Regions from separate parts of the Homo sapiens genome. Here regions 2, 3 and 4 are each linked to region 1. The links come from fine-mapping of genetic effects on gene expression. A gene starts in region 1. Each other region holds a variant in brackets. All regions are shown on one strand. Distances are from middle to middle.

Region 1 (2,688 bases):
TGTACAAAGCAAGTTTGAAGAGAGGTCCCTAAAGCTATGTCAGGAGGGGAGAATTAAGACTCTATTTGAGAAGCTAAAAAAAATGATTAGAGGAGTTGAGAACTGAAGCAGTCAAAAAGGAGAGGAAGGGTGAAATCTCATGGCAAGATGCAATAGGTGGGGTGGTCTGTTTCCCATGGCTAGTCTTGGTTCTGAGAGTGAGAGAACAGTGACAGTGAGGGGCAGGCATGGAGGCAGGCCCACTTCTCCCAGGAAGCAGATGTCTAGGATGATGTGGATGTTGGGGATGAGGGTCACAGGGAAGAGACAGGAAAGAAAGAAGAATGCCAGAGCAAAGAATTAGTGAGGTGGGTTGGGTCCAGCAGTCCTAGAACTCTGTGGGGATGACAACGACGTCCCTAGCTGTAAGAGGTGGAGCCTGGGGATGGGAGAAGAGGGGCTGGCCCTATGGGGACAACTATGAGGAGAAAATCTTATATGACCCTCACACCCAGGGTGTATGTGTGTACGACTCTGGGGGTGATTGCTTCCTAGAGCTTGAGTTGGGGATGGCAGTAGCGAGTGGACTATGCTGGGCCCTTCAGTAAAGGGTGAAAGGCGTGTGAACTCTCTGGGCCCATGCTAACGGGTGAAAAAAGGGCCCTGGCCTGGGGCTGAGTAGGTCAAAGCTCACTCCTGTACCTGTGCTTGGATCCAGATGTTTGGTGGAGGCTCTACTGTGGTATGAGGGCGGAACTGAGTCAGTCCCCTCACCCCGAGGCTGGGTGGTAAGGAGTTCAGACGGGATCAGGTGGGTGAGAAGTGCTCTGGGGAGCTAAACTCCTGTCTAGATTCTTTGCCATTCTATGGAATGCTAGATCCACACAGTCCTGGCCTGAGAGGCTGCCAGGCTGTGTTGAAGCGAGTGTCCGCCCTTGAGTTTACAAATCATGTTGTGCCAGCTGTGCCGTGAGGGACTCTGGGCTGGGATGGGGCAGGTGAGCAACCTCCGACCCGCAGGTTTTACCAACGCTGCCATCTGCCCCAGACCCTGCACTGGGAGAAGCGGGGAAATCGGGCGCTCTGGACCAGGCCTCCGGTACTCTGAGTTTGGGCAGAAGACAGTTCCCTCCTCCACCCTGGCCGGCTCCGTGGCGTACCTGGTCACCGACACCCAAGCCGAAGTAACCGTGTGTCACCACTTCCCAATGCAAGAAGCAGACGAGCGCGTCCTGCCTGCAGGTGATGGCCGGCGCTGCCGATGCGAACAGTACCTCCAGGCCCGCCATGAGCGCCCGCGACTTCGGCGTCTGGAGGAAAGAAGGGGGCGGGGGTAGTGCAGTGAGCCGGCTCCGCGGCCGGGGTAGCTATAACTCTGCTTCCCTCTTGCGCTGGTTCTTGCCGAGTCCACACCTGAGACCAAAATGGAGACGCCCGGGGACGGGGCGGGGCGGGGAAGCCGGAAGTAGTCCCAACAGCGGGCGCAACTGCGTGAGGCGCGCCGGGTTGGCAACGCGAGCGCAGCACTGAAAGGTTCCGCCAGGGAGTGCGAGCGGGGCGTGGCCCCTCAAAGCCGGAAGCCGGGTCTTGGCGGCAGTCGACAGGATCGCCTGACGCGGGCACAGCGTCCTCCAAGAGGCCACCTTGCTGAGAGGCAGACTTCCCATCCACAAAATGGGGTATGCTAGGCCGGGGAAGGGGCTGGGAAATGTGGCTAAAATACATTCTTAATAATCGTTAACACGTTCGCCGTGCTTGCTACCGTCCACATTATTCTAAACGCTTTACTTGTATTCATTTATTTAATCTTCACAACCCAACTCTATGCAGTTGATATTAACGATTAATGTGCCTCATTGCACAGATGAGGAAACTGAGGCGCAGAGGGATAATTTGACCAAGATGACAACAGCCAGCCGGTGAACGGCTGAAATGGTTATGGGAACCTGGCAGTCTGGCTTCTAAGATAACATTTATTAAGTGTTTATTGTGTGCTACATCGTGCGCTAAAACCTTTACATCACCCTCTCAACAACTCTATGAAGTATGGACCGTTATTATCCCCATTTTGCAGATGACAAAACGGCTCAGAGTTGAAACCACTTCTCCAAGGAGACACAACTGCTGCCCGCAGAGCTGAAGCTCCTGACCCACTATCAAATTTCAATCATTTATTTGCCTACCCCCTTTATGATTTTTACCACCCGTTACTTCAACAAGTTTCATGAAATCCACTTATTGTTTTTACCCAAATAAATTTAGTTTCCCCATCCCAGTCACTAACCTGGTTCAAGCTCCTGTCATCTTTCACTTGGATGCCTGGCATCAGCCTCAGAACTGCCCCATTCCATTCCTGTCTCTCTCTAGTCTGTACTGCACTCCGCAACCAGAGAGATTCTGTTAGAAAACAAGTCAGATCGGCCAGGTGTGGCGGCTCATGCCTGTAATCCCAGCACTTTGTGAGGCCGAGGCAGGCGGATCACTTGAGGTCAGGAGTTTGAGACCAGCCTGGCCAACATGGTGAAACCCTGTCTCTACTAAAAATACAAAAATTAGCTGGGTGTGGTGGCGCACGCCTTTAGTCCCAGGTACTCGGGAGGCTGAGGCATGAGAATCAATCGAACCCGGGAGGTGGAGGTGGAGGTTGCAGTGAGCCAAGATCGCACCATTGCACTTCAGCCTGGGCAACAGAGCGATCTTCTGTCTCAA
Region 2 (2,688 bases), 47 kb before region 1:
CATCTGAGACTGACCCTGGGCCTAGGCATCAGTTTAGTTTTCATCTACCTGTTCTCAGGCTAAGCAGATAGGCAATCTGAGGCTACAGAAAACAGCCTGGCAGATACCTCAGAAGAGCTACAGTAGCTTGCTTACCTACAGGTAAATAATAGGTCCTAATTTAGGGGAAGGAATCCAGGGAGCTGAGAAATGAAAGGATCCACATATGGTTGAAATGCTAGCTGCAGAGCGGAAGTGACTACCGCCTTGATCTCGTGCCTCTTAGCCTGGTGCTCTATCGTGCTCTTTCCACTCCAGAACAGGGCTCATCACTGCCCGCGTCTGTCAGGCCTCGGGCTGAAAAGGATCCGGAGAACACCAAAGGTCAGGTGGGCCAGGACACAAGGTGCAGGGCTCCCTGCTCCTCCCGAAGTTCAACACCACACTCAGAGGCAGCCCATGCTCCTGTGCTCTGTCTGGGCCCCATGGGGTCCAAAAACCACAGAGTTAGGCAAGAACCACACAAGGTTCAAGGGAAGTATGGCCTTGAACCATCATTCTTTTCCTCTGCCCCAGTTTATAGGGGTTACCAAACACAGAATGAGACATCAAAATGCTTTAGAGCAGGAAAGCCACCTCCAATTTCATAGGCTTGGCACAAGGCCCTAAGAGGAGAAGGAACTTGCTTAGGGTCATTCACTAAGTTAGTGGCAAAAATAAGATTAGCCTTCAGGTCTGCTCTGTTTTTTCCTTGGCTTTTTGACTACTGCTGCCCATGCACAGATGGACCTACAAAACTGGCCCAGACAGGAATAGCTGGAGGATTTTGCCTCATCAGAATGATGCAGTCTTTCCACAATGTTCCTGCCCTTGTGAAAGTCATTCTTGTGGCCTATGGGATTTCCAGTCACTCATTTCCATTCATGCAGCCAGAAGGGGACCCATCTTAGTGATGTCAGGAGCAATGGCAATTAATAAACGGAAGGTGCCTGAGAAGCAAGAATGGGCCCTGGGCAGGAAAAAGAGTCATTCAGCCCTACAGAAACTCAAACTCTAAAGTCTCATAAATGGAAGCAGCTATGCATTAATGTAAAAAGAAAAGTGGGAAACCGGCAACATGAATTCTGTATTGACATTTGGTTCTTAATAATAACATCCAAAATGCGTTCTGTTCTTATA[G/A]CACTGCATCTGGTCGAGGATATATGTTGCTGAAGGTTGCCGGAGTCTCCCTTGGGAAGTGGAGAGGAGCTGGTGGTGAAAGGGGAGGAGCTGATGGTGAAAGAGACACACTGATTTCTCTTTGGGAGCTATCTGCAGCTAGGTGGAGAGCTGCAGCAGGTGTCTTGGCTCTGATAAGGGGTGGGGAGGCTATCCCAGCCGGTCTGCAAACACATGAGCAGAATCCCTTGCCCCCAGCCTGCAAGAACATGGTTGCTGATGGGGACAGCGGTGGCAGCTCCAGGAGAATGGAGGGAAGCCTGGGATGTTACATTCTTGAGGCCTTCACAGGTACATGTCATCGTAGCCCGGCGGGGGGAGATGGTCTGGGTTAGGTCTGGAATGGAAAGAGGGGCTGATGAGTTGGAGTGATGGAGAGACCAGGGGAACATGGGCAGACATGACCCTGCACTGAGGGAGCCTGCCCTTCAACATGATGTGGCGGTGTGAGGAATTTAAACACATGCACTCAAGAGCCAGACAACCGGGGTTTGAATCCTGACTCCCCCGCTTGGTATAAGTTACCTAATCTTTCAGGGCCTCATTTTCTGCATCTATAAAATGTAGACGCCACCATCTACCCAAGACTGCTGAAGAAAGGATCCACTGAGTTTCTGCCACATACTTAACTTTCAAGAATTGTTAGTTCCTCCTACTTTGAGTCCTCCCCAGAGTGGAGCTGGGGAAAGAGAGGCACTGAGGGATAGGAAGCTCCTAGAAGGCTCCAGGGAGAAATCAGGCAGGGCCCTGGAGGAGGCTCCACTCTCCTGGCAGCAACAGGTGAAGGCAGCGGCAGCTCTGTGCCTGGGGCTAGAAACCTTCATTGCTGCCACACTGAACCAAGCTGCCATCAGGTCCTACTTCTCAGCATACCTGAGTGACTACGTACCCGGGTGGGCTGGTCCCAATGGGTCCAAAGGGGTCAAAGCGAGCTCCTGGGGGCACAGCGCCTGGAGGAAGTCGGTTCGGGAGGCCTGAGGAAGGGTCAATAAGTGCTCTTGGGAAGCCAGATCTCAGGGGATCCACAATCATGCCACCTCTCCGAGGCCTGAGGCAAGAAGAAAAGTTAGGTAAGCAGGTGTGGCAAGGACTGCCCTTGGAGAAAAGGCGAGGGAGGTTACAATGCACCAAGAATGGCTGGGATGTCTACTCTGGATGGCCCAAGCAGACATGTGGATGGCTGCCTGAGAGCCAGCGGAAAGTGGGCAAGGGCAAGAACACAAAGCCTATACGAAGAGCATACCTCACAGCTGAGTACTTCTGGCTCTGCAGGGGTTGGTTCTGCACAGTGCTTTTGGTTCTGTAGGGCTCCTCAAAATTGAGATCCCTGCCATATCATATACTCAAGAGGGCCAACTTGATCAAGACCAAGAGCCAGAACTTGCCAAGGTCAACTACAATGCACTCACAAGGTTCTGCAGGGTGCTACTTTAGGTTTAAGGACTAATTATAGCATTGAGGTAATTCGTGATGTTGGTTTTTTTTCTCTTT
Region 3 (2,688 bases), 30 kb after region 1:
TGCCTCACCTAGATTCATACATCTCCCCACCCAAGCCTGGGCCCATCATCTCTTCCTAGAACCGTTGCCCTTCCAGGCTCACCCTTCCACTAGCTTCTTCTAATTTGGCCTCTAAATTACTAACAATGTGCTTTGTCTGAAACATGTTCTATTCAGGCCACTTCACGAATTCAGGGAGTGGATTAGTTATATATGACCACATGACAAATTGCAAACCATAGTGGCTTAAACTCAAAGTTGACAAACTAAAATCCTCAGGCCAAATCTGGCCTGCTGCTTGTTTTTGTAAATAAAGTTTTGTTGGAACACGGCCACACCTATTCATTTATGTATCATCTATAGCTGCTTTTGCAGAGTTGAATTATCGTGACAGAGACAAAAATACTTCCTTTTAGGCCCTTTAGAGATAGTTCATTAACCACTGGCTGTACACAACAACAGTCATTTACCAATCTGTCATGGTTTCTATGAGTCAAGAATTTGGGAGCAGCTTGACTAGGTGGTTCTGGCTCAGGACCTTTCATGAGGTTGCAGTTAGGTATTGGCTGGGGCTATGCTCATCTGAAGGTTTGACTGGGGCTGAAAGATCCACATCCAAGGAGACTTACTTACATAGCTGGACAGTTGATACTGGCTATAGGCTGGGTGGGGCCTGTGTTCCTTTTTACATGGGCCTCAACACAAGACAGCTTAAGTGTCCTCATGGCATGGTGACTGCTGTCCTCAGAGTGAGCAGTCTAAGAGAACAAGGTGGAAGCTCAGTGCCCTTAGGAGCTAGATTCAGAAGTCACACGCTGTCACTTCTGCCATATTCTACTGATCACTCAGGCCAGTTGTAATTCAATGTAGAAAAGATGACACAAAGGAATAAATACCAGGATGTGGGATAATTTGGGGCCATCTTAGAGGCTGGCCACCATATGGAAGACAAAAATCAATGCTTCCATGAGCATTTTGGCTCACAGATGTGTTTTGTTAGGCTTGTACCATGCTTTAAGTTGATATTTTAAAATTGTGAGATTTCACAAAATATCTAAAATATTTAAATTATTCCACATTTCCACATGTGACAATAGGATGGAAGTGAACAACAACTTCCCTCTTTGCAAGAGACATAATTCTTTCTAGTTTACCACAGATCCCACCATTC[C/T]TGACTGTATCCTTAAAGGAGAAAATGAATTTCAGTGATTATTAACAATTATCCTTGGGTTGTTTCTTACTGTAAAGAAATACTTCCCTGAAAGCTCTTCTATATCAAAAGACGGCAAAGAAAAGATACACTAAGAGAATCTCCCATTTTAAAAATAATCAAGGGGGACCGCATTTCTTATTAGGAAAGAAGAATGTATCTGTATATTTAATATGCATAAAAAATGTGTGTATTTTAAACAACCACAACCAAGACTTGTAAAAATATTACTGCTTAGCCTGTTGAGGCCGATCTCCTTCCTGGCATTAAAGATCTTCTGTATTCTGGTCCCTCCATACCTTAAAGGCAATATGGCATGAGGATTAAAAGTTCAGATGCTAGGATCAGACTGTGTCAGTTCAAGTATCAGTTCAACCATTCACTAGTTGTGTCCTCAATTTTATCATCTCAGAAATGAAAATCATAATAGTACCCATCTCAGGGGGTTTTATGGCTACCTTTTCAGCTCCATTTTAAGCCCTGCCAGTACTCTAGCTACCCGAACACTCCAAACTATTTTATCCCTCTGTGTCTGTGCACATTCTATTTCCTCTGTCTGCAATTCACATGTCCTGCTTCTCTGCTGCAAAGCTCAGTCCACAGTGAGGTGGCTCTTCACCAAACATGTCTGTATCTCCCAGACACAGTGTAGGATACTGCTTATTGGCCCCCCTGTAGTTGGATTGAGGTTATGTGATAAGAGCTGGTCAATGAGTTGTGGGTACAAGTAACACATGTCTCTTCCAGGCTGGAGCATTTAACAGCAGGTTTGAAACCCTTGAGAATTCTCTCTTCTTTAGGCCTCAGCAACTGGGCCCTGGAGTAAGGATGACGATGATGGTGTGAGCAGAGCCACAGCCAAACCACGACACGTGTGTTGAGCAAAATATCTACCTCTGTGGTTTCAGACTTCAGGGTTGTAACAACAGCATTAACTGGCTTACACTTACTCCTACATCTGCTCTCTGCGGCTTTCCTTAATCCTCCCAAACATGGCAACAGTACAAACCTCTATTGACATATGATCCCCTTATGCCCTGTATTAAATAACTGGCTTCTATGTATCATGGTGCCTACAGGCACTGTTCCCTCCTCAGAGTGGCCTTCCCTAAGTACCTATTGTAAAGATGATCTCTTTCTCCTCGCTGGATGAATACTCAGTTTATTTAGTTCTTGGTACTTTATTCTTAACAGCAATTGTTTTTATTTATTTAATTCTTGTCTGCCTCTCCCATTAAACAATAAACTTATAGCCCTGGAGCTTAGCTCAGTGTTTGATCCAGGGATATTAGTAAATGAATGATTGATTGAATGAATGATCAATGAAAACTGTACATCCAGTGTTTAGCATGGTGCCTTGTGAGACTGAGTGAATGAATGAATGAATGAATGAATGCATGGCCCCTGGTACAACTCAACAACTCACCCACACTTAATCATATTTGCAAGTTTCCTCTCTCAGGCCACATCACAACTTGAAAGGCTGCAGAAGGCCCAGT
Region 4 (2,688 bases), 25 kb before region 1:
CCACTGCACTCCACACTGGGTGACTCTGTCTAAAAAGAAAAAAAAAGATTCACGGGGGTTGGAAAAACAGCACAAGAGGTTCCAATATACTTCACTCAGTTTCCTCTAATAGTTAAACCACCACAAAGATCTCTCTCATGCTACTCCCCTTAATAACCACACCTACAGCCCTGCCCTCATAACCCCTGGCAACCACTAATCTGTTTAGCGCCTCTATAACTGTGTCATTTTAAAAATGTTATGTAAGTGGAATCACACAATATGTGACCTTTTGGGAATGGCTTCTTTCACTCAGCATAATAACTCTGATTAACCAAATTGCTGTGTTTCAACAATTCATTCCTTTATGCTGCCGAGTGGTATTCCACAGTATGGATAAACCACGGTTCCTTTAACTATTCATCACTGGAGGAGGCACATCAGATTATTTCCAGCTTTTGGCTATTACAAATAAAACTCTTCTGAACATCTGTGTACAGGTTTTTCTGTGGGCACAATTTTCATTTTTCTGAGATAAATGTTCAGGAGTGTGATTCCTGGAGCTAACTATTATGTACACGTTTAGTTTTTTAAGAAACTGCCAAATGATTTTCCAGAGTAGCTGTAACATTTGACATGCCCACCAGCAGTGTACATGATCCAGTTTTTCTGCACTCTCTCTAGAATTTAGTATCATCACTATTTTTAATTTTGGCTATTCTAATAGGTGTGAAACTCCCATTGTGGTTTCATTTGCATTTCACCTAGCTTAATGGCTAACAATGCTGAGCATCTTTTCATTGCTTCTTTGCCATCTGTACATCCTTCTCAGTGTACTACCTCTTCATATCATTTTTCCATTTTTTTCTTTTTTTGGGGGGGACGGAGTCTTGCTCTGTCACCCAGGCTGGAGAGCAGTGGTGCCATCTCGGCTCACTGCAACCTCCGCCTCCCGGGTTCAAGTGATCCTCTGCCTCAGCCTCCCGAGTAGCTGGGACTACAGGCATGCACCACCACACCCGCTAATTTTAGTATTTTTGAAGAGACACGGTTTCACCATGTTGGCCAGGCTGATCTCGAATTCCTGGCCTCAGGTGATCCAACCACCTCAGCTTCCCAAAGTACTGGGATTACAGGCATGAGCCACCATGCCTGGCCTTCATTTTTCCATTTTCTAATTGGATAGTTTCTTAAGCTGTTGATTTTGAGAGTTCTTTATCTAGATATGAATCCTTTGTTGAATATATGGTTTCCAAGCATTGCCTCCCAAACTGTAGGTTATGCTTCTATCCTCTTAACAGGGTCTTTCACAGAGCAAAAGTTTTAAATTTCAATGAAGTCCAATTTAGCATCTTTTTAAACACTGTGCATTTAGTGCTGTATCTAAGAACTCTTCACCAAGCCTGAGACACTGAAGATTTCCTCTTGTGTTTTCTTCTAGGAGTGCTGTGGTATTGTATGTTACATTTAAATCAATGATCCACTTTGAGGTCATTTTTATAGAAGGTTAAGGTCAAGGGTCATATTTTTGCTTG[T/C]GATTATCCAATTGCTCCAGCATCATCTACTGAAAGACATTCTTTCCTCCATTGACTTGTTTTTGCACCCTTGTCAAAAGTTGGCTGGTCTTAGTTCTGTGTTCACTATTCTGTTCTACTTATCTATATGTCTGTCCCTCTGCCAATTCCACCATCTTGATTACTTTAGCTATATAATTAGCCCTAATATTGGGTAGAATGATTTCTTCTACTTTATTCTTTTAAAAAATTGTTATAGCTATCTTAGATTCTTTGCCTTTCCATATAAATATTATCTGCTGTATCTTGCTATATCTGCAGAAATTCTTGTTGGGATTTTTGATAGGAATTGCATTAAAATAGTGTATCAATTTGTGGAGTATCTGACATTTTTACTATGCTGATTTTTTAATCCATGAATATGTTATGTCTCTCCATTTATTTAGATCTTCTTTGATTTCTTTCACTAGCATTTTGTAGTTTTCAGTATAAAAATCTTATACAAGTTTTGTTAGAATTATACCTGCTGGAGAGGATGTGGAGAAATAGGAACACTTTTACACTGTTGGTGGGACTGTAAACTAGTTCAACCATTGTGGAAGTCAGTGTGGCGATTCCTCAGGGATCTAGAACTAGAAATACCATTTGACCCAGCCATCCCATTACTGGGTATATACCCAAAGGATTATAAAACATGCTGCTATAAAGACACATGCACATATATGTTTATTGCGGCACTATTCACAATAGCAAAGACTCGGAACCAACCCAAATGTCCAACAATGATAGACTGGATTAAGAAAATGTGGCACATATACACCATGGAGTACTATGTAGCCATAAAAAATGATGAGTTCACGTCCTTTGTAGGGACATGGATGAAGCTGGAAACCACCATTCTCAGCAAACTATTGCAAGGGCAAAAAACCAAACACTGCATGTTCTCACTCATAGGTGGGAATTGAACAATGAGAACACTTGGACACAGGAAGGGGAACATCACACACCGGGGCCTGTTGTGGGGTGGGGGGAGGAGGGAGGGATAGCATTAGGAGAAATACCTAATGTTGAATGATGAGTTAATGGGTGCAGCACACCAACATGGCACATGTATACATATGTAACTAACCTGCACGTTGTGCACGTGTACCCTAAAACTTGAAGTATAACAATAAAAAAAAAAGAATTATAGCTG

Which allele goes with the higher level. Positions count from the first base shown, and alleles are read on the strand shown. Sizes are in standard deviations (SD) of each study's normalised expression. Not every link is listed here.
For the expression in lymphoblastoid cells of the gene that starts at base 1,440 in region 1, allele T in region 3 goes with a higher level than allele C (small effect, 0.32 SD a copy in GTEx).

Evidence for each region. PIP is the estimated chance that this variant, and not a neighbour inherited with it, causes the effect.
Region 2: its variant is fine-mapped to the expression of PSMF1 in nasal epithelium (TOPMed, PIP above 0.99). The same link has a PIP of 0.9 or more in lung and pancreas.
Region 3: its variant is fine-mapped to the expression of PSMF1 in lymphoblastoid cells (GTEx, PIP 0.97).
Region 4: its variant is fine-mapped to the expression of PSMF1 in whole blood (TOPMed, PIP 0.99).

Annotation. Positions count from the first base shown.
Region 1 is chr20:1,117,354-1,120,041 of GRCh38, reverse strand. It overlaps PSMF1 (proteasome inhibitor subunit 1), which reads right to left and starts at 1,440. Exons shown (of 7, transcript NM_006814.5): 1 at 1,140-1,440. The coding sequence starts at 1,268. LOC105372493 (a long non-coding RNA gene) reads left to right here and starts at 1,594. Exons shown (of 2, transcript NR_136535.1): 1 at 1,594-1,658; 2 at 2,054-2,190. RefSeq lists enhancers at 1,168-1,297, 1,338-1,527, 1,538-1,587, 1,598-1,647, 1,047-1,689.
Region 2 is chr20:1,163,875-1,166,562 of GRCh38, reverse strand. PSMF1 (proteasome inhibitor subunit 1) reads right to left here. Exons shown (of 7, transcript NM_006814.5): 6 at 2,087-2,245; 7 at 1-1,534. The coding sequence ends at 1,483. Among named protein-coding and RNA genes, the nearest start is that of TMEM74B, 20 kb to the left of the region's middle. The variant G/A (reference allele first, on the strand shown) is at 1,159.
Region 3 is chr20:1,086,923-1,089,610 of GRCh38, reverse strand. No RefSeq gene overlaps it. Among named protein-coding and RNA genes, the nearest start is that of PSMF1, 30 kb to the left of the region's middle. RefSeq lists an enhancer at 2,519-2,688. The variant C/T (reference allele first, on the strand shown) is at 1,151.
Region 4 is chr20:1,142,258-1,144,945 of GRCh38, reverse strand. All of the region lies in intron 4 of PSMF1 (proteasome inhibitor subunit 1), which reads right to left. Among named protein-coding and RNA genes, the nearest start is that of PSMF1, 25 kb to the right of the region's middle. The variant T/C (reference allele first, on the strand shown) is at 1,515.